Regions from separate parts of the Homo sapiens genome. Here region 1 is linked to region 2. Evidence: fine-mapped expression QTL. A gene starts in region 2. The other region holds a variant in brackets. All regions are shown on one strand. Distances are from middle to middle.

Evidence for each region. PIP is the estimated chance that this variant, and not a neighbour inherited with it, causes the effect. A credible set is the group of variants that fine-mapping cannot tell apart.
Region 1: its variant is the best candidate, but not a certain one, in a credible set for the expression of AMACR in lung (TOPMed, PIP 0.60).

What each region holds. Positions count from the first base shown.
Region 1 is chr5:34,030,350-34,041,421 of GRCh38, reverse strand. C1QTNF3 (C1q and TNF related 3) reads left to right here. Exons shown (of 6, transcript NM_181435.6): 2 at 5,664-5,775; 3 at 7,964-8,118. It overlaps C1QTNF3-AMACR (C1QTNF3-AMACR readthrough (NMD candidate)), which reads left to right. Exons shown (of 9, transcript NR_037951.1): 2 at 5,664-5,775; 3 at 7,964-8,118. Among named protein-coding and RNA genes, the nearest start is that of C1QTNF3, 7.3 kb to the left of the region's middle. The variant A/G (reference allele first, on the strand shown) is at 5,997.
Region 2 is chr5:34,001,679-34,012,750 of GRCh38, reverse strand. AMACR (alpha-methylacyl-CoA racemase) reads left to right here and starts at 4,701. Exons shown (of 5, transcript NM_014324.6): 1 at 4,701-4,978; 2 at 6,852-6,995; 3 at 8,017-8,177. The coding sequence starts at 4,732. C1QTNF3-AMACR (C1QTNF3-AMACR readthrough (NMD candidate)) reads left to right here. Exons shown (of 9, transcript NR_037951.1): 7 at 6,852-6,995. RefSeq lists a silencer at 4,485-4,564.

The sequences.
Region 1 (11,072 bases), 29 kb before region 2:
GAAGCAGAAGGAAGTTAAAGGTTGTCTTTGGTCATTATGTCCTGACAACCAACACCCAGCAGGCCACTGAAATTCAAATCACATTTCTCCTTCACTCTACCTTCTAGGTTCCTGAAGTATTTTCAAACAAACCACCAACAGGAGATATTGAGGATATTTAGAGTTACTGACATTCTGGAAGTTTTCACTACAACTCCTCTACCAACGGCTATGGAAACCACAGTTTGCATTTAGGATTGTGCTATGTTCTTCCTTCTTTCCCTACTTCCCCTGTCCCTCTTCTTTGATCGTAATTCAATTTTCCTCTTATTCATTCAGTTCCCGTGTATTTCTTGTGCTTCTACTTTGTACCAAACTTTAAAAGGGGGGCCAGGGATATATAAAGATAAATATGCCTGAGCTCCCATGTCCAAACCATCCTGAAGGGCTGTAGTAGAGATAAATTTTTGTTAATTAAATTAAGTTTAATTAAATGCCATGTGTTAAATAAAGTCAGTACATGAAAGGCAATTGGGCAAAAGTGTCAAAGTACTGATAGTTTTTGAGCTGGATCTTAAAAGATGGTATTAAAAGAATGACTATCCACAGCAAATTAAAAAAAAAAAAGTGCTGCAACAGAGACTGGAAAGCCTGTGAGGAGTTGGCTGTGGCTGAAGCTCCTGGGTTGGGGATGCAGGGGTGGGGGTTGGGGGGACGACGGGACATTACACGACTTTAGTGCCAAGAAGGATTCTGCTAGCTGGTTTAGGAGCTTAGATTTTGCTTTGCTAGCTAGGTTTTGTTTGTTCATAGCAGGACAGTGAGGTAATCAGATATATGGTCTGGAAAGATGCTCCAGCTGTGGGTTCATGGTGGAGTACAATGGCCAGAGATCTGGGGTGGGCAGACCTGGGCTCTTTTTTCCTGGTATTTTCTTCTCTGTAGCCTCTTTTTCATTCACCTTTGTCAATCTCCCCTCCTTCTCCCGGATACCCATTTCTCCCTCCTCCCACTTCCCTTCCTCTTCTTTCTTTTCCCTTTTTTTGGGGCAGGAGGTTTAAAAAAAGGAGCTATGACTCTCCTTCCTAGAAGTCACTTACTAGTAGTAGAGCTCAGTTCTGCATCCCTACCCCTAGGCCTCCATCTGCAAAATTGATGGAGCATTTCTTAGAGACAAACTCTTTCTCGCATGCTGCAAATTTACCTGCCTTTTGCATACAAATTTGTCCTGCTTTTGGGAAAGGGGATGATAAACAAGGAGGTCATAAATAGCAACTACCTACATGTAATTTTCCCTTACCTAGGAGAAAACTTCTGAATTAACACATCCCTTCCAACTTGTTCTAAGAGTTCCAACAAAAGACTCAACAATGCAAAAGCATTGCTCCATTCAACTGAACTTTGAAAGACAAGGCCAGAGGAAGGAACGTGTAATGCAATGCTGCTGAAGGGTTCTCACGAGGTGCTCGACTAGTAGTAACCAGAAGTCTCTCACTGTTCTGGTGGCAGCTCTGTGCCCTCAAAGTGCCCTCAAGTAGCTTGGTCTTGCACTTCCAATCCTAGTTGGCTCTAGCATTGAGCAACTTCATCTCCTGGAGCTGAATTCTTGTGCCTAGATACTAAAAACAAAATGTTTCTAAATTATTATTTGAGGCTTTGGAAAATACTTTAGTATCTTTGCATTGTAGAGCTGGAAAAAAATGCGAGACGACTGTAGTGGAAAAGTGGGAAATCTTCTCTTGTTTCATCCTCTGAAGATTCTCTGAAAATTAACTGTCCAAAGGCAGATCAATAGGAGAAACACACATACCGCATGGGGATGATTTCCCAATAGCCCAATGTGGTATGCATGCTTACACACCCTTCCACGTAGGGTAGCAGGGAGTTGGGGAATGTAGAAGTAAATTACAAAGTTCCTCTGAGCCCTGAGGGAGGTGCTGTTACCAAAAGTGAATCCACACGGGTCTGCAACAACCTCAATTCTTGGCTCCTCAATTCCATTGAGGGTCATAAGGCGGAAGGAGAGACCAACGCAAGTTTTAGAGCAGGAATGAAAGTTTATTAAAAAGTTTTAGAGCAGGAACAAAAGGAAGGCAGGTATACTTGGAAAGGGCTAAATGGGCAACTTGAAAGACAAGTGCACGGTTTGACCTTTTGACTTGGGGTTTTTTTACGTTGGCATACTTCTGGGGTCTTGCGTTACTTCTCCCTTGATTCTTCCCTTGGGGTGGGTTGTCCACATGTGTAGTGGCCTGCCAGCACTTACTTGGGAGGTGAGCATGCATAGTATGTTTACTGGAGTTGTAACCATGCTCACTTGAGGTATTCTTCCCTTACCAGCCAAATGCTCCTAGGAGGTCATTTGCCAATTAAACTCTGCCATTTTGCCTCTTAATGCACATGCTTGAGCCCACTTGCGCAACTCCTGAGATCTTATTGGGAAGCTGCCGATAACCAGTTTCAGGTTTTTGCTATCTTTAGGAAGACTGCCTTTACCCGGCACTGGCTGCAACCAATTATTATTTTAGAGAAACAGTTAAAAGCCACTTGATCATCACCTGATGATCACCTGATATTCCCGGTCAGGTGGAGCCCTCCCCTACCCTGCTCATGTCTGAGTAGCTACCTACTGTAACAGTATCAAGAAGGGAAGGGAGAGAAATTTACTGTGAACAGAGGTTGTCTTAAAGCTTCCCAGATTATGGCTCCTAGCTTCCCTCAGGAAATAGAAAAAAAGCCTGTCTGAGCCTTGTGATGACTCCCAGTCTCTTCAGTTCTCCAGTGGTTAATCTTTCCTGGTTATTTGATGAGATTCCTAAGGAGGGGGTCTTAAGACAATTGCATTTCTTTTGGAAAGATGCTTTCTTAGTCAAATAAAGAAATTCCAGACAGAGTCCCTCCCGGCACTTCTGGAAAGAAGATCAGAGAGACTGGGAGGCAGGGAAAGGTCAGAGAGAGACCTTGGATCTGAGGCTTCTCTCTCTTTTTTTAATAAGAGATTTGCCACAAGTCAGTTTTCCCTGTGATAGCTCTTCCAATACGTCTTTCTTAAAACACCTAAGTTCAGAAGGATCATGAGGCCCCTCTCTCATGATCTGCATTCATACTGAAAATCAAGATCAAGCAAGCTTTTGTCCTGCTCTGCAGAGCCTTCCATCCTCCCTGTGCTCACCTTATCTTCGTGGCTTATTTCTGAAGCCTTCCATTTCCAAAGCACTCAACACGCTGAAGCACGTATTTTGAAGAGTCATTTTCTGTGCACCAACACCACCTCATCCAATCCTCTGATTTAATAGCCAAAAACAAAACAAACAAAAAAAGATGTCTGGAGAACAGCGACTTCTCTAAGGTCACACAGCACCATGATGGAAATTCTGGTTTCAGTCCAGTGGGTGTTTCAACATTCCTAAGCATCTCAGTATTTCCATTCCATTCCTATATCGATGGTTCCACTTGAGGATTTTCCCTCCTTCCCCTCCCTTCTCCATCCTTAAAATTCATCATTGGCAGAGCCCTGGATTTTCTGAGGTTTAAAAGGCTGAATTTCACATTGGCAAAACCATAACAGGAAATATGGAATCCTTCCTTCTCAGATTACAGTTTTGGATTAGAAGGTGGGGTGTGCCGTGGTGTCTTTGACTTTCCAAGTGTCCTGAAATCCCTCAGATAAAATCCCTGAGATGAAATCCCTCATCTCAAACCAATGGCTTTAGTTGACTTTTCTTCCCCTACCAATTTGACAGAAGGTTTTCATAGACTCTAGTTCTTGTCCAGGTTTGAGCCTGGTAGACTGAAGACAAGACTAGGAGTTAGCTCTAAGTTATAGCTCCTGATCAGGCAAGACTTGGGTTCTGAGAGGTTGCAGGAGAATGCTTGTGCTACAGATTCTGTTCTGTGTTTTCCCTGAATAGCTTGGTGGAAAATTTTAGGACAAAGCAGTGAGAGAGTGAGAACAAAATTCAAGCCCATTTTTTATTAAAGAAAAGAAAGTAAGGTCTAAGTGTTTAACTGTGTGAAGTTTGATCCAGTTCTCTGCTTAAATTTTTAGTGACAAATACAACTTGAATTTTAAATTCTTTTTTCCTCCCTCTGTGTCTCCTTTTTCTTTCTCTTCTTCCCTGGCCTCCTTTTTCTCTCCTTTGCTTCATTTTTTTCATGAATCTCTTAGCAACAACATGCTGTTTTCAAAAGACCGTTGAATTATAATTGATGTCTAGGAACATTTCCACAAGTATTTTGTATGACATAATTAATAGGCAAGTTGCCAGTTTAGATGGGAGTTCAAATTTCATAAGCAACTTTAACTCTTCTGTCAATCAACTTCCACTAGGTCTTTAGCTCTTTGACGGTAAACATACATTTTAGAAATTTATCTTTGTATAAATAAGCATTTCACTCAGTGTCATACTTGAGCATGTTTAGTACCCATTAAGTGCTTATTAAACATTGGTTCAAACAGTGAGATAATCATTTCACAATTTTTTTTTTTTGAGACTGTGTCTTGCTCTTGTCGCCCAGGCTGGAGTACAATGGTGCTATCTCAGCTCACTGCAACCTCCGCCTCCTGGGTTCAAGTGATTCTCCTGCCTCAGCCTCCCAAGTAGCTGGGATTACAGGCATGCACCAGCATGCCTGGCTAATTTTTGTATTTTTAGTAGAGATGGGATTTCACCATGCTGGCCAGGCTGGTCTCCAACTCCTGACCTCAGGTGATCCACCTGCCTCGGCCTCCAAAAGTGCTGGGATTACAGGCATCAGCCACCATGCTCAGCCCAATCATTTCACATTTTAAAGTGGAATGTGTGAAATAGAAATCATGTTAAATAGTTGATTTACTGATAAAGTTAAAGTTGTTTCAAGATGTAGATAATTAATAAAAATGTATTGGACTTATAGTTAATAGCAATGTATTATATTCTTGAAAATTGTTAGGAGTAGATTTTAAGTGCTCTCTCTACAAAAACAGTATATGAGACAACACATATGTTAATTAGCTCAATTTAGTATTTTACACTGTGTACTTATTTTATAACAACATGTTATACGTGATAAATATATATATAATTTCTAGTTGTCAGTTAAATAAGTAAATAAATGTATTGGACTAAAAAATACTTTATTTCCTTCGTTTTCTAAGACAATTTAAGTGTGCTATGGCTGTTTGAAAAACTAGTGTTACTATTCAGAATTTCTAAGAGATCTTAATCTAGCTCTTAACTCAGTATCATGGATATAGTAAGCATTTAAAAACAGTGCTTAAAGTGGATAATTCTTGTAATTTGAGGACCATCTACTCAATTTAGCTACATCTGGGGCTATGGCAGTTGGAAAAGAGAAAAGGCTTCCAAGTCCACTTCTGAAGGAGTTTCTTCCTTTGCTGTTACAGTAGCAGCAGGAAGGCACTTTCCAGAAATAGGACCCAACTTCCCACCCCCACCCACACGCTTTTCAAAGAGCATCTTCCTCTATTGACTTTCTTGTTGCCTTTTCCTTTGATCATCAACTGACCTTAGCTACTCCCTGACCCTTTGCCATTGATATCTCCACCCCATCCCATCTTTTGTGATCTTGCTGTGATTCGATTGGAATTAAGCTTACCTAAGGGCCAAGGCCAGTGGAAATTTAAAAATCCTAATTGCTCACAAGTACCTTTTTTTCTGAAGCTTCTCTTTCTGTCTTTTTAGTCTCCACAAACCGGAGGACTACCCCCAGACTGCAGTAAGTGTTGTCATGGAGACTACAGCTTTCGAGGCTACCAAGGCCCCCCTGGGCCACCGGGCCCTCCTGGCATTCCAGGTAAGGATGAGCAAGACATACTGTCAATCTAATTGCAGCCTGAGCTAAAGTAGGAGCAAAGGGCAAACCTTAATAATTTGGGATCACTTCTGTGTGATCCAAAGGATCCGCTAGACTCTTGGCACCCTGGAATACCAGGTTCATAGGCTGGGAGGCTCCTCAACAGCATTGAGTCCGAAACGACCAGGTCATAGTCTTCGTTCCAGTATATCTGCCACAGC[A/G]TGCTTTATGAAGGGCAGAGTAGAGCCAAAAGCTTACTGCTCTGGGCTACAGCCATCTCAATGCCAGTCACTGAGCTGTGCATCCTTCTGTGTGACTCTAGGTCCAGCTAAGTGCTTCTTCCTCCAGTCTCAGGATCTCTCCATGTTCAGCCGTCTCTCAGTTGACTCTCATGCCACTCTTGACCTCATGGAAACATTTTTAGGCTCCAGTACCATGTAGTGGTATGGGGAATGCTCTGGAGCTACATGAGACCCCACTAGACCAGCAATTCAGTCATCTGTACTGTGCCAATGCCACCAGGCATAGGAGAGTGCCGCGGGCCTGCTGGTACCCTGGGTCAGTCCAGGAAAGGGTAGCCCAGGTCTCCTCAATATGGGGCTCCCAAGCCTATCTTGGGTTTTATTGTCTTCATCCTCAGGTTAATCCCTAGGGTAGGACCTCATCTCAGGGTCTGGCCAAAGTCCACTGGCTCTTCTGTGACTTACTCTCATTGATGTTAATATTTATCAAATGTGGTTCAATTTTTTTTCTACTTTTGAGTAGCTTCTTGCACAAAACCAAATTTACAGCAAGAAAATCTTATGTTAAACTTTAAACTACACTTACTGGCTTGGAATCTATGTCATTGGCCATCAAGGACAGCAGCCAGCAGGAGCAATGATGTAGGGGTAGGGCCTACTTCGACCCTTGTAAAATCTTCTCAGGTCTTAACTCTTGTGAGGTTACACAAAAGATTGGCCTTGGTTAAATGTTTTCTAACCAGGAAATGGCTTTGTCACTGAACACATTAATTTGTAAACACAGTCAAAGTTCATCCATTTGGTAGGGTTGTAAGCCTGGTATGATAACCAACCAAGGGTAGCATGCAAAATGAACAGCAAAAAGCCTGAAATTTAGCAAATATTAAAAATAAAGAAGAGGTGTAGAAATTGTCTCTTGTTGGCAAAGGGAAAAGTTAAAATTGTTTTCCAACTCTTGCTTTCAAAATCATTGCTGTAATTTGTTTAATGAATGAGTTTACCTTTTCCCCAGTTATAAAAGTGATGTGTTTTTTGTAGAAAACTTCAAAGAAACAGAAAAATATACAGAATGACATGAAAATTACTCATGTTCCACATTTAGAAAAGAACCTCTGTGAATATTTTTCTGTAACTTATTCTTGTCTTTTTTTCCCTATGGATATAATACATAAACACATATTTTTCCAAACAAAGATAGTATCATGTTATTTCTATTTACTCATAACTTTCTTTTGCCTGAAACAAAGTCTGGCTCTTTTGTCCAGGCTGGAGTGAAGTGGCATGATCCAGGCTCCCTGTAGCCTTGGCCTCTTAGGCTCAAGAGGTCATCCTGCCTCAGTCTCCCAAATAGCTGGGACTACAGGTGTGCACCACCACTCCTGGCTAATTTTTTAATTTCTATTTTTGTAAAGATGGGATCTCACCATATTGCTCAAGCTTGTCTCAAACTCTAGGGCTCAAGTGATCCTCCCACTGTGGCTTCGCAAAGTGTTGAGATTACAGTTGTGAGCCACTGTACCTGGCCACTTATAACTTTAAAATCTAAAAATATCATGAATATCACTATATCATTAAATGTTTTTCTTCAGCCTTCTTTTTTATGACTATATAACATAGTTTCTAGAATATGTCATGCCCTCCTAGTATTGGTGATTATATAGGTGGTTTCCAATCTTTGCTATTTTAAATGATAATGTGATAATCAGAATTGTACACAATTTTTCCTCCAAGCCTCGCTTCAAAGGATAAACAGGCTTTGGAGCTTTAGGGTATCTAAGGCTTCTTTCAGAGCCTATTGCCCTATTTAGATGATGATACCCCTTGGTTATATTTGGGATTATTCTGAATGGTCCCCTTTCATAATTGAGTTTGGATAGTATGTCTAGAAATGGATGGTAAGTATGAGTGACTGGGTTTTCTCATGTGATGATGTCTGGTTGTTTAAGGAAACCATGGAAACAATGGCAACAATGGAGCCACTGGTCATGAAGGAGCCAAAGGTGAGAAGGGCGACAAAGGTGACCTGGGGCCTCGAGGGGAGCGGGGGCAGCATGGCCCCAAAGGAGAGAAGGGCTACCCGGGGATTCCACCAGAACTTCAGGTAAACCATCCTCGGTACATCTCCTGGTGGCTTTCCAACCTGCCTGACCAAAAGGGGCCAGGAATCAGGATGTTCGAGCGCTTCCTCAAGTCTTCCCCAATCCTGAGTAAATCTGAGTCTCAGTTTGTTCATCTACATCACAGGATGTTTGCATAAGGCCCATACTGTCCAAAAGGAGGACTTAGATACTATTCTTAGGGAGGAGAGACATTTATGAAGGGTGAAATCTAAGTCCCTCATAGAACCAAATCCAAGGCAACCCTAAATATAAACTTATCTCCTATTTTCCCAAATAAGATGTTTTAAGAATGTAATAAGATGTAATAAGGGTTTGGGCCAACTTGAATGTATAAACATTTAAGTATATAAATGGAATGATGAAATGTCTAGTTATAATATTGTATTTATTAACATTGTTATATTTACATATACTAATCCATACATAAATATTGATATATATTGTTTTCTCTCAACTCAGATTTTGTGGTATAATTTTTGTTTATTTTTTGAAACAGAGTCTTGCTCTGTTGTCCAGGCTGGAGTACAGTGGCACGATCTTGGCTCACTGCAACCTCTTCCTCGTGGGTTTGAGCAATTCTCCTGCCTCAGCCTCCCTATAGCTGGAATTACAGGCATGCATCACCACACCTGGCTAATTTTTGTATTTCTAATACAGACGGGTTTTTGCCATGGTGGCCAGGCTGGTCTCAAATTCCTGGCCTGAAGTGATCTGCCTGCCTCGGCCTCCCAAAAAAGTGCTGGGATTACAGGCTTGAGCCACCACACTTGACCTTGTGGTATAATTTTTACTTGAGCTTTTCTTGTCAGAATCTTCTTTATCAATGGAGAATTTCAGTTTTGAGCCATCCACTCAGTGTTCCAGACCAGATTACATTCATTTCAGCATAAAGTTTAAAAAATCAATTTATGAGGTTAAAACTGTACATTTTTTTCCAGGCTCAAGTACCCATTTACCTATTCTTTCTCTCTCTTTTAAATGATCATTAAAGTTCTTATTGCCAACACGATCTTAAACTTGTAAATGTGAGGTTAGGTCACAAGGAAAATTACTAACTTTGGGTTATTTCTGGAAGGTGGAGGAGGGCTAATATTTTGAAATGGATCCCCTCTGGGGGACTTCTATCAGCATTGAAAACTAGCATTTTTTAAAAATTAAGTTTCTTTCTGACTAGTGTCTTCCCAAAAAAAGTAACTTGTGGATAAAAATAAAGTAACTGAGATAAAGTACTGCAACATGAGAGATTTTTGAAGAACTAGACTATAAAGCGATTCTTGCCTGAAAGATCAATTAGGGGGAAACTGTCTTTCATTTGTGCGTGTATGGTGGTGGTTTGACCCTGTATAAGTTCCATCATTTTTCTGGGCCTTGGTTTCTCAAGTTTAAAATAGCTTGAATAGTTAGTGTGTTACTCTCATTTGTGGGTTTTGCAACTTTTAAATGAAAGCCGTTTTGTTTTGTTTTGTGTGTGTGTGCACAGGCTGGAGTGCAGTGGTGTGATCTTGGCTCACTGCAGCCTCCACCAAGGTTCAAGCGATTCTCTTGCCTCAGCCTCTGGAGTAGCTGGGATTACAGGTGCGTGACACCATGCCCGGCTAATTTTTTTGTATTTTTAGTAGAGACGGCATTTCTCTATGTTGGCCAGGCTGATCTCAAACTCCTGGCCTCCAGTGATCGGCCTGCCTCGGCCTCCCAAAGTGCTGGGATTACAGGTGTGAGCCACTGTGCCTAGCCAAATGCTGTTTAATAATTTCAGCAACCTGGGATCCATGTGCCAATATAAATTTACAAACAAAAAGGCTAGAGATGCCACTCAGCCAGGTTAAGGTATTTAATAAGACAGAAGATAAACATCTCAAAGCTAGACACTCTAACCCATAACCTATGAATGGTAAACCACGGAGAAGGGGCCCTAGAGTAGCCAGTTTGATAGAGAACATTCTGGGCAATTATTAAATTTGTCCCATCAGCTATTTTACCCTAAAATCACAATACAATCATTTGGGTCTTACACAGATTGTGAAGGAGGGAACTTCACATTCTTTGAAGGTCCCAGCAAATTAAAGAATTTATTAATCTAACTTACACTCAGTTTCAATGACTCATTTGGACGAAGGATTAACTTTGACTTTCACAGCTCATTCTTCAATGGTGGTTTTAAGCAAAAGCTTTTCTTTTCTTTTCTTTTTTTTTAACTTTTATTCTAAGTTCAGGGGTACATGTGCAGGTTTTTTACATAGTTAAACTTGTGTCGTGGGGATTTGTTGTACAGATTATTTTATCACCAGATATTAAGCCTAGTACCCATTGGTTATTTTTCCTGATTCTCTCCCTCCTCCCACCTTCCATCCTCCCATAGGCCCCAGTGTGTGTTGTTCCCCTCTATATGTCCATGTGTTCTTATCATTTAGCTCCCACATATACATGAGAACATGCAGTGTTTGGTTTTCTGTTCCTGCATTAGTTTGCTAAGGATAATGGCCTCCCGTTCCATCCATGTTCCTGCAAGGGACATGATGTCATTCTTTTTTATGGCTGCACAGTATTCCATGGTGTATATGTAGCACACTTTCTTTATCCAGTCTATCATCAATGGGAATTTAGATTGATTCCATGTCTTTGCTATTGTGAATAGTGACAAAAGTTTTCTTGACAGGCGGAATTGTCTCAAGGCTTTTAAAATTATTGTTAACATTTTGTATTTTGAACTTCAACCCTGTCTTTGGATATTAGTAGTATAGAGGTGGCAACAATAGTAGTAGTGGTGGCAAGAGGAGGAAGAGTACTACCCCATTCTCCACTTAGGGGATATAGAAATTTGAGGCCCAATTACTAATTACTCAATTGCCAAGTGACAGAATTAAGAGAGGTGGACCTTAATCTCATATCTTTGGACCCAAATAGACAGCCTTATTCCCAAACTCATAGAGCCTCT
Region 2 (11,072 bases):
AAACAAAACATAGTATATAAATAGTACAGCTATGTCTGCAGATAGATATAATGGACTGTAGGACATACATCAAAGTCATGGGAGTGTTTGTCTCTTTTTTTTTTTTTTTTTTTTTAAACTGAGTCTCACTCTGTCACCCAGGCTGGAGTGCAGTGGCATGATCTCATCTCACTGCAACCTCCACATCCTGGTTTCAAGCAATTCTCCTGCCTCAGCCTCTGGAGTAGATTACGGGGGCCACCATGGCCAGCTAATTTTTGTATTTTTGGTAGAGATGGGGTTTCACCATGTCGGCCAGACTGGTCTCAAACTCCTGACCGTAAGTGATCCACTCACCTCGGCCATCCAAAGTGCTGGGATTACAGGCATGAGCCACCGCACCTGGCTGTGTTTACCTCTTGAATGCTGCGGTGGGGGAGGCAAAGAAATCTCACTACAGGTGAAAGTTAAAGAAGACTTTAGCTATGGAAGGAGTTTAAAAGCAGCTTGCATGATGATGCATTTACCCCCTTACTACAGGGATGCCCTGAAAGAGAAAGAAAAAGGCAAGTGAATCTCCATATTAACTGGATTTTGTGTAAATAGATGCATGATATTGTCTAGGAGGAAGAGAATTGAAAGACTGAATGCACTTAACAAGATATCCCTGGCCAAAGGATTATTTATGGTAAATAAACCCGGAATCTAAGAAGCATGGTTCCATAGCTAAAGCAATTCTCTGAGATATAAAATGAAGTCTATTAGGTGACCTGAGAACCTCGTTAGAGACTTCATCTGTAATTTGGGCAGAGGGGTTATTCGTTTACTAAGGCTGCCGCAATGAAATACCGCAGACTGGTTGGCTTAAACAATAGAAGTTTAATTTATCACAGTTCTGGAGGATAAAAGATCAAGATGTTGGCAGGTTTGATTTCTTCTGAAGCCTCTCTCCTTGGCTTGAAGACAGCAAGTGTCCTCACTTGATCTCACTGTGTCCTCACATGGTTCCCTTAGGTCTGTGTTTTTTTGGTCCTAATCTCCTCTTCTACAGATACTAGGATTGAATATTAGTCATATTGGATGAGGGCCCACCCATATGACTTCATTTTGGCTCTATCTCTAAATACAGTCACATTCTGAGGTATTGACGGCTAGGGATTCAACATATAAATTTTTATTGATTTATTATTAATACATAATATTCGTACATATTTATGGAGTACATGTGATATTTTGATACATGCATACAATGTGTAATGATCAAATCAGGGTTTTTAGGATATTCATCACCCAGAACATTTATCATTGTTTTGTGTTGGAAACATTTCAAATCTTCTCTTCTAGCTTTTTGTTTGTTTTTGTTTTTTTGTTTTGTTTTGTTTTCTTTTTGGAATAGGATCTCACTCTGTCTCCCTAGCTGGAATGCAGTGGTGTGATTATAGCTCACTGAAGCCTCAAACTCATGGGCCCAAGTGATCCTCAGACCTCAGCCTCATGAGTTAGTAGGTTTATAGGTGTACCCCACATCCAGATAACTTTTCAAGATTTTTTTTTTTTCAAGACAGAGTCTTGCTCTGTCGCCCAGGCTGGAGTGCAGTGGCACGATCTCAGCTCACTGCAAGCTCCGCCTCCCTGGTTCAAGTGATTCTCCTGTCTCAGCCTCCCTGGTAGCTGGGATTACAGACGCGCACCACCATGCCCAGCTAATTTTCATATTTTCAGTAAAGACGGGGTTTCACCAATTTTTCAAGTTTTTTGTAGAGATGGGGTCTCACTGTGTTGCCCAGGCTGGTTTCGAACTTCTGGCCTCAAGTGATCCTGCTGCATCAACCCCCCAAAATGCTGGGATCACAGGTGTGAGCCACTGCATCTGGCCACTATTTTGAAATATACCATATACTGTTGTTAACTATAGTCACCCAACTGTGCCATCAAATACTATTATTTAGCTATTATTTATTCCTTCTAACTACATGTTCATACCCATTATCCAATCTCTTTTCATCTCTGCCCCCCCATCATTCTACTCTTTATGAGATTAAATTTTTAACTCCCACATCTGAGTGAGAACGTGTGATACTTTTCTTTCTGTGTCTAGTTTATTTCACTTGACATAATGACCTCGAGTTCCATCCATGTTGCTGCAGATGACAGGATTTCATCCTTTTTTTATGACCAAACAATATTTCATTGTGTATATGTACACATTCTCTTTGTCCATTCATCCAGTAATGGACACTCAAGTTGATTCCATATTTTGGCTATTGTGAATAGTGCTGCAATAAACATGTGGGTACAGGTGTTCCTTTGACATACTGATTTCTCTTAAGATTTTTATCAAGACAATATGTGCACAGCTGAACATAGACCCTTATCAGGAGTTTTTGATTTTGCCTTTTGCCTTGTGATCTTTATTGGCCTCAGAAGCATGTGATCTTTGTTCTTCTTGTTTGCCCTTTGAAGCATGTGATCTTTGTGACCTACTCCCTGTTCTTAAACCTCCTCCCCTTTTGAAATCCTTAATAAAAACTTGCTGGTTTTGCGGCTCAGGTGGGCATCACGGACCTACCAATATGTGATGTCACCCCTGGTGGCCCAGCTGTAAAATTCTTCTCTTTGTACTCTTTCCCTTTATTTCTCAGACTGGCCGACACTTAGGGAAAATAGAAAGAACCTATGTTGAAATATTGGGGGCGGGTTCCCCCGATACTTTTGGACATATATCCAGTAGTGGGACTGCTGGATCATATAGAAGTTCTATTTTTAGTTTTCTCACAAACCTCCATACTGTTTTCCATAATGGCTAAACTAATTTACATTCCTACCAACAGTATATATAAGTTCCTCTTCTCTGCGTCTTTGCCAGCATTTGTTATTTTTTGTCTTTTTGATAATAGCCAGTCTAACTGAAGTAAGATGATATCTCATTGTGGTTTTGATTTGCATTTCCCTGATGATTAGTGATGTTGAGCATTTTTTCATATACCTGTTGGCCATTTGTATGCCTTTTGAGAAATGTCTGTTCAGATCCTGTGCCCACTTTTTAATGAGATTATTTCATTTTTTGCTGTTGAGTTGTTTGAGTTTCTTGTATAGTCTGCATATTAGTCACTTGTTGGATGAATAATTTGCAAAATATTTTCTTCTATTCAATAAGTTGTTTATTCTGTTGTTTCTTCTGTTGTGCAGAAGATTTTTAGTTTAATATAGTCCCATTTGCCTATTTTTTGTTTTTGTTGCCTATGCTTTTGAAGTCTTAGTCATAAAATCTGTGCCTAGGTCAATGTCCTGAAGTGTTTTATCTGTTTTCTTATAGTAGTTTTATAGTTTTGGGTTGTATGTCTTAAGTTTTTTAATCCATTCTGAGTTGATTTTTGTGTATGGTGAGGGATAGGGGTCTAGTTTCATTCTTCTGCATATGGATTTCCAGTTTTTCCAGCACTACTTATTGAATAGAATGTCCTTAATATATGTTCTTGGTGTTTTTATTGATAATCAGCTGGCTGTAAATATATGGATTTATTTTGGGGTTCTTTATTCTGTTCCATTGGTCTTTGTGTCTATTTTATGCCAATAGAATGCTGTTTTGGTTACTACACCTTGGTAGTATAATTTGAATTCTGGTAGTGTGTTGCTTCCTGCTTTGTTCTTTTTGTTCAGTGTTGCTTTGGCTATTCAGGACCTTTTGTGGTTTTATACAATTTTTTTTTCTATTTCTATGAAGAGAAAGCCACAGAGTCCTAAAATAATTCTAAAACTCATCATGACTTTCTTGCCTAAAAGATCTTGATTTCAATCGTGCCTAGTTTTGCTTTAATCACTTGCTTGAGAAATACATAAATCCCCACTTAAGATTAGTGCAGGCATATCTCTGGCACCCATTTCTGGTTCTATTAAAATTCCTAGAGATGTCAAAAATTACATTAGGCCACCTGACAGGCTATACCTAGAAGAGAAAAAATGATTTGTAAAAGCAGTGGGGCTATTTGCGATTGCTTTTTTTTTTTCTTAAATATCACCTATTAGGTTGAAAACCTGAAATTGCAGCTTTCTGTAGAAATGGCGGAAGACAAACTAACATTTTTAAAGCGCTCTCATTTAGCTCTGATGAGTACTACACCCCTGATATTCTTCTGATACTAAAATAATTTTCCTAGTGTAGTCTAAACTTTTTTAAAAAGACATGTAATCCGCGGAGTTTGTAACTCAAAACGAGTGCATCTAGGAGGTATCGCAAGCCGTTTCTGGATTAAATTCCCAGCTAGCTAGCTAGCTAAGCAGGGGCGGTGAAGAAGACAATCTGCAGCCTAGGGAAGAAAACGCTTTCGCATTGTTCTTACGTGTTTACGTTATTTTATTTCCCTAGAGCAAGGCAGGAGTAGGGACTCGAATGGTACAGTTGGGCTGGGGATCGCCCTGGTACAATAAAAGCGTCCAGAGAGGACGGTAACAGGCAGGAGCTCCAAAGGTCAGTCCCTGCAATTTAAGACTCAGGAATTTAGGTTGCACAAAAAGGAAAGCAACCTACTGCATTTGGCACTGGCGGTCCCGGGAGGCCGGGGGTGGGGAAGCGCCCAGTGCGCAGACTCCGCGGGCTTGCGCAGGCCCGCAAAAGAGGGACGGGGGTGGTGCCTTTGGGGCGCGGCGCCGCGGCTGGGGGCGTGGCGCCGGGGATTGGGAGGGCTTCTTGCAGGCTGCTGGGCTGGGGCTAAGGGCTGCTCAGTTTCCTTCAGCGGGGCACTGGGAAGCGCCATGGCACTGCAGGGCATCTCGGTCGTGGAGCTGTCCGGCCTGGCCCCGGGCCCGTTCTGTGCTATGGTCCTGGCTGACTTCGGGGCGCGTGTGGTACGCGTGGACCGGCCCGGCTCCCGCTACGACGTGAGCCGCTTGGGCCGGGGCAAGCGCTCGCTAGTGCTGGACCTGAAGCAGCCGCGGGGAGCCGCCGTGCTGCGGCGTCTGTGCAAGCGGTCGGATGTGCTGCTGGAGCCCTTCCGCCGCGGTGAGCCCGGGCCCCGCGGGCTGCTCTCGGGAAGTTCCCGCGGAGGGGAGGGGCCTGGCCGTTCGATCGAGGCTGCACCCGCCACACCTTTGCCCTGTTGCCGCAAGAACCCTTGTCGGCCCCAGCCTTCCAGATTTTTGCCTCCTAGGGTATTGTTAGTGATCATTCTTCCCAAACTGGATTGTCCAAAACTTGGGTTCTGAGATACTGCTGTTGCCCGGTTTCTCCTTTTGCCTCTCTGACTCCTTCCCAAATTCCTCCTTTTTTTTCTAAGAAACGTTCCGTATTTGCCTTTCTTAATTAATTGAGGGTCTTGAACCCTGTGAGAATCTAATGAAAGCCATAGGATTCCCTTCCTGGAAAACTGCATATAGGCGGTCATTCGGCTACCGTTTTGGAGTGCTGTACCCTCAAGCCATCCACGGGCCCAGGCTAACGCTCCTCCCTGCCTGAAATGCTGGCGTTCTAAGTCTCAGCATCTGCTCCCTGAAGCCCAGTTACCCATTCCCATCATTTTCACCTTTTTGTAGACTTCCCCCTTTCAGAGCGGCAGACGCTGGCATACACAGGTCCTGGGCATCGCCGTCAAGGCTGCCCGCCAGGCAGCTTCCACAAATCCCAAAATGAGCCTTTCCTTCTTCCTTCTAAAACAGCATCTCCACCTTCTGTATTATTTATTTCAGTGAATGCCTGAATCTCAAACTTGTACTTCATCATGGACTCCAGTCTTCCTTTCACATCCAATTTCAATGATCATCAATACAGTCATTTTGCTCCTTAGCCCACTCGGACTATTTCTCTCCATACCTGCTGCAACTGCCTTGACACTGGTGTGACAGCCTTTTAAAAACTGGTGTTTGGGGCTGGTATCACTCCAGTGGATTCTCAGACAGCTGCCAGAATAACTTTGTTCAAGTAGAAATCCAAAGCATTGCCTGGTCTATAGTGGGAAATCGGTAAATGGTGAATGAATGAATGCCTACGGCACAGCCGGCTTATTTAAATGCGTTAACTCATTTAACCCTCACAGCTGTATTTGAGGCTTGTAACAATAATGATTTAATAATTAAGATTATGTAATAATTTAAGAATGCTCCATTTAAGATGAGGGAGGCTTGTCCAAGGTCTTGTAATTAGGAGGAAGGTCGGCTGGGAATACGGATATAGCCTCCGGGTGAGGAGTTGTGACTGGTGTTTAGGTAGATGACTAGAGGTTTTCTGTGATTTATTTTAGCCTTAGGAAGGTAAAGATAGTGAGTTTATTATGTAATTTTGATTACTTTTAATCCCAGGAAATTTCAGGTGCTGGTTACCTGGGGTTTGTGCTATAAATACTATACTTGTTGATAGCTTAAAAACTCTCAGGTGCTATTGTCACTAACCACTCTTTCTACAGATGGGTGCTAAACTTTTTCGTGAAGGTACTGATGCTAGGCACTTTAGCGCCTGTGGAAACATCAGGTGTAAATTCTGCAGGAGGAGCTCATGAGCTGATAGGGAAGATAAGTGTATGCATGTACAAGCAAGTGCAGCTAAGGTGGGATGTGGTAAACACTGATGCGGTATAGAAAAAGAGAAAAGGGATTTACTAAAGGGATGAGACCCTGCTCTGGGGATTGAATAAATAGGCTTGGATAAACCTAGAGGGAAACAGAGATGTACTGGGAGAAATTACATCCTGGGAAGAAGCCACACATTCCAGAAATGGTGGCTTCACTCTTTGAGTCCTTAACTGCTGTAAACATGCCATTAGCCTACAGCAAATGTTATTAATATTACTTGCAATGGTGCTATTTTATGTTTGTCTCAGAGAAGGGATTATCTCCATCCTCAATTCATACTCTCTTAAGAAGATCGTTACTTTTCTCTTAAGGTGTCATGGAGAAACTCCAGCTGGGCCCAGAGATTCTGCAGCGGGAAAATCCAAGGCTTATTTATGCCAGGCTGAGTGGATTTGGCCAGTCAGGAAGCTTCTGCCGGTTAGCTGGCCACGATATCAACTATTTGGCTTTGTCAGGTATGTTGAAAAAAAATTTAGTCTACACTTTTAATTTATTCCATCAAGATCTACAGGTATGTTGATTAACAATAATTTGTAAAGGTAAAAATTTAAACATTTATCAGAATCAATCAAGAGAGCATGGGTGTTCAAAATGGATCGGTTTGAGTCTTGAAACAATCATTCTCAACCTTCCCTCACCCCATCCCTTAACAGGTTGGAAGGTTAATACATGCCCACTACTATCATTTATTTACTACATTTGTTGAGTCAATTCTCAGACAAACCCCTGCTAGGAATTAAGAGGCTTACTGGGTACTACGGATGGTTGCTCTGTGGTTTGAAAATGTTGACATAGTTAGATTCTGACAGCTACTTCTCCCCCGGACCCCGAAATCTCCACCCACCATATTGAGAATCATTGCCTGAGTCATTGTTTCAGACTTCTATGAGCACTAAAAAAAGCCCATGGTTTTCAGGTCCTAATATCACTTTATTAGAGTTTTTGCCTGTGACGACATGTGAGATAGGCCTGATTCCAGAATTCTAAGAACCATGTGTTGTTGACTATAGGACATTTCAGATTTTCTGTGAGTACACATTTAAAAGTTGAGGAAAGAAGTGGGTATAGAATTGTCTCTTCACATCTACTTAAAAATTAAATTCCTTTTTTTTCTTGTCTGCAAGTATTTTCTTACATTTCTTTATGCTAAGAATGAAAGTGCATTTACTGTTTTAAAACCACAAAATAAATAATCATTTTCTTTTCCAAAAGTAAGTGAGTAAAAACTTAGCAATATTTGAAAATGTTGGTTGGAATAGGTTTTAGAGAGGAAAACAACAAAACAAGGATCCTGTCTTGAGGGAAAGCCTGTTTATGAGTTTACTGACTAAGCTCAGATTTGGAAAAGTGATGTATACTAGCTTTCACTTAGATTATCTGCTGGAGAGATTGATTATTCCTCTAAGATGCTCACATATTTATTTTAAGAAGAGATTAAATTTAAAAGAGACATTAAATTTGTTTTTAATGATGTAGGTGTTCTCTCAAAAATTGGCAGAAGTGGTGAGAATCCGTATGCCCCGCTGAATCTCCTGGCTGACTTTGCTGGTGGTGGCCTTATGTGTGCACTGGGCATTATAATGGCTCTTTTTGACCGCACACGCACTGGCAAGGGTCAGGTCATTGATGCAAATATGGTAAGTATTAATTGGGGTAGATGCCTGCCACTTGTCCCTAAGTTTAAGATATAGCTGCTTAAAATCCTTTTTTTGAAGAAGAAGACAAGAGATAAATGACATTTGAAGTTTCAAGCCAGGTTACCAAGGATATCCTTTTCTTTTTAAAATAGACTTATGTCTTTTATATATCTGTTAGAATGTCATATTTTGATCATCTGTCCTTGGAGTCAGTTCTCTGAACTTTCTGTGACTCATGTGATTCCTACGTTGTTTTAGGTTGGTGCAAAAGTAATTGCAGGTTTTGCCAAATATTTGCCAACCTAAATATTTCAACAATTTTCCCCAAGTATCTCTTGTGCTTAGTATATCATTTTCAAGCAGTCGTCATTCAAAAAAAGTTCAAGAAGTCTCCCTCAGCTGGTAGAGAAAATTCTTAGGAATGCTAAGGTCAAATGGACCTCCCTGTCTAAACCTTCCTGCTGCGTTTTATAGGGGATGCTCTGATATCATAACACTTCTGTTTGTTCACTGTCATCCACTGAGTGCTTGCCTCATGTTCTGCTGAGCACATTCCCTGTGTGATTTCTTCTTATTCTCAAAACTGCATTTGGAATACCTTGTTGTTTTAAAGAGGAGGGAACGGAAGCATTGCCATTTGCTCAAGATCTCACAGCTAGTGGGTAAGAGAGCCCACTCCAGCACCACCACTGCGTGTTTGCATTTTCACAGACATTTGGAGGTGGGATGGAGAATGGATCTGAGGAGACAAGACTGGAGGTACAGAGACCAATGACTGGGTTATTGCTGAAGAGATCAGGGCAAGTACTAAAGCAGTTAATGGTAGAGTTGGTTTGCATTGAAGGGACATTTGAGGTATAAAATTGCTGGGAATTGATAATGGACTGACAGGGAGCGAAGAGGGAGAAGTTGAGGCTGGCTCCCAGGTTTCTGGCTTAGATGACCTGCTAGTGTCTTGAGGGAAGACTGCTGAACACAGTGGTCAGAGCATAGAGTGGCAGCTGACTACCTCCGTCCCAGCTCTGCCATTTACTAGCTCTGTGATCTTGGGCAAGTTACTTAACCTCTCTGTGCTGTAGTTTCCTTTGTAAAATGGAGATAATAATGACATCCACCTCATAGCATTGTTAGTTGCTATGAGAATTCAATGAGTTCATCCATTGTTCAGTGTGGGAACAGTGCCTGGCGTACAGTGGGCCCTCTGTAAAAGTTTGTCATTGTGGTTATTTTTACTAGAAGAAAAGGAACTCAGTTTTGGTCTTTTCAGTTTTAAAGTGCCTTTCAGATATCCAGGTGGGATACTTGAGGTTAGGGACTAGAAACAGATTTCGGAGTTATTTGGGAGCCATATGAGACTATGTGATCCACTAGGAAAGGGGATAGAACACCGGCATTTAAGGAATGCGTGGGCAGAAAAGAGAAGCAAGGGCTGAGGACAGCTAAGGAGAGAAGCAGAATGGAGTGTTGTCATGGAAACCAAAGAAAGGAGTGGTCAGAGGGTCAAATGTTGGTGGATACCTCAAGAGTTTAGAGACTGAGAGTGTCAACTGGATTGGGTCCTGGCTGATCTTCACAAAATCCATTTTCTACCAGAAACCCCCTCATCTCCAAAGCTTCAGCCTGCGCTTCCTTCTCCTGTTCATGGTGAATCATGACCAGCCCTGTACTGAGTGTGTGCCTGTGGGACACTGTCATCAGGGCACATCTCACACTTTCCAGTGTGCCCTCTCTGAAGTGTGTACCAGCAGCAGGGGAGTGTGGTTTATCTTTTGTGGGCCAGCTCTTGGCGTACTCATGGCATAGTCGCTGCATGAGATAGCAGCACCGGATTTATACCAGTACCCGCCAAACTCAAGACCGGTACCTTCCACAGGGCTTCTGTGATCCACACAGTTCCCTGAGGGAGACGTGCTACTATCATTGGCATTGAAGACTTGAAGGCTTGGCGAGGTTAACTGCCTTCCTCTAAAGCAGATGACGGGAAAGGGTCCGAAGCACTGCCCCAGGCAGTTGGACCCTAAAGCCACTGCTTTCAACAACTTCCCCTGCTGCCCCAAGAGCATGGTCCCTGGGGTCCAAAAGGAATGAACTAAGAGCAAACATGGAGTCTTGGGAGTGTTAAGGAGAATTTGAGCCTAGATACTTCTCTAGTAATAATTTGAATAATTTACTGAAGAGATGCAATTGATTATCATCAAATATAAATAAAAGGTGATTGCTGCTTTCAGCAGAATGTAGCTAATCAGAATTATATAATGATTAGAAGATAGTAAGGTTGGCTGGGCATGGTGGCTCACGCCTGTAATCCCAGCACTTTGGGAGGCTGAGGTGGGTGGATCACCTGAGGTCAGGAGTTCGAGACCAGCCTGGCCAACATGGTGAAACCCCATCTCTACTAAAATACAAAAAAGTAGCTGGGCTTGGTGGTACGCGTCTGCAGTCCCAGCTCCCTGGGAGGCTGAGGCATGAGAATTGCTTGAACCCAGGAGGCAGAGGTTGCAGTGAGCCGAGACCACACTACTACACTTCAGCCTGGGTGACAGAGTGAGACCGTGTTTCAAAATAAATAAATTAAATAAAGAAGATAGTAAGGTTTTAGGGTATGTGAAAATGTTGTAATCTTTCTTCTGGGTTCATATTTCCATTAGGGGCTAGTAAGTGTTTGCTAATTACACAAGGCTAAAAGAATCAGTAAATCATAGTCATTACTTCATCACTAGGACCCCTTGTGACACAGGCAATTGCAGAAGCTGATTAGGGGAAGGCAGATACCTTCTAATGGGCCGAAAGTTTTCACAGTGTTTAGCAGCAGAATTCCAGACCTGGGCCTGCCTGTGAAGAGCTGGAGGCTGCCTTATTGTAGTGCTGTTTCCTTGGAAACTGTAGTTAAGATAA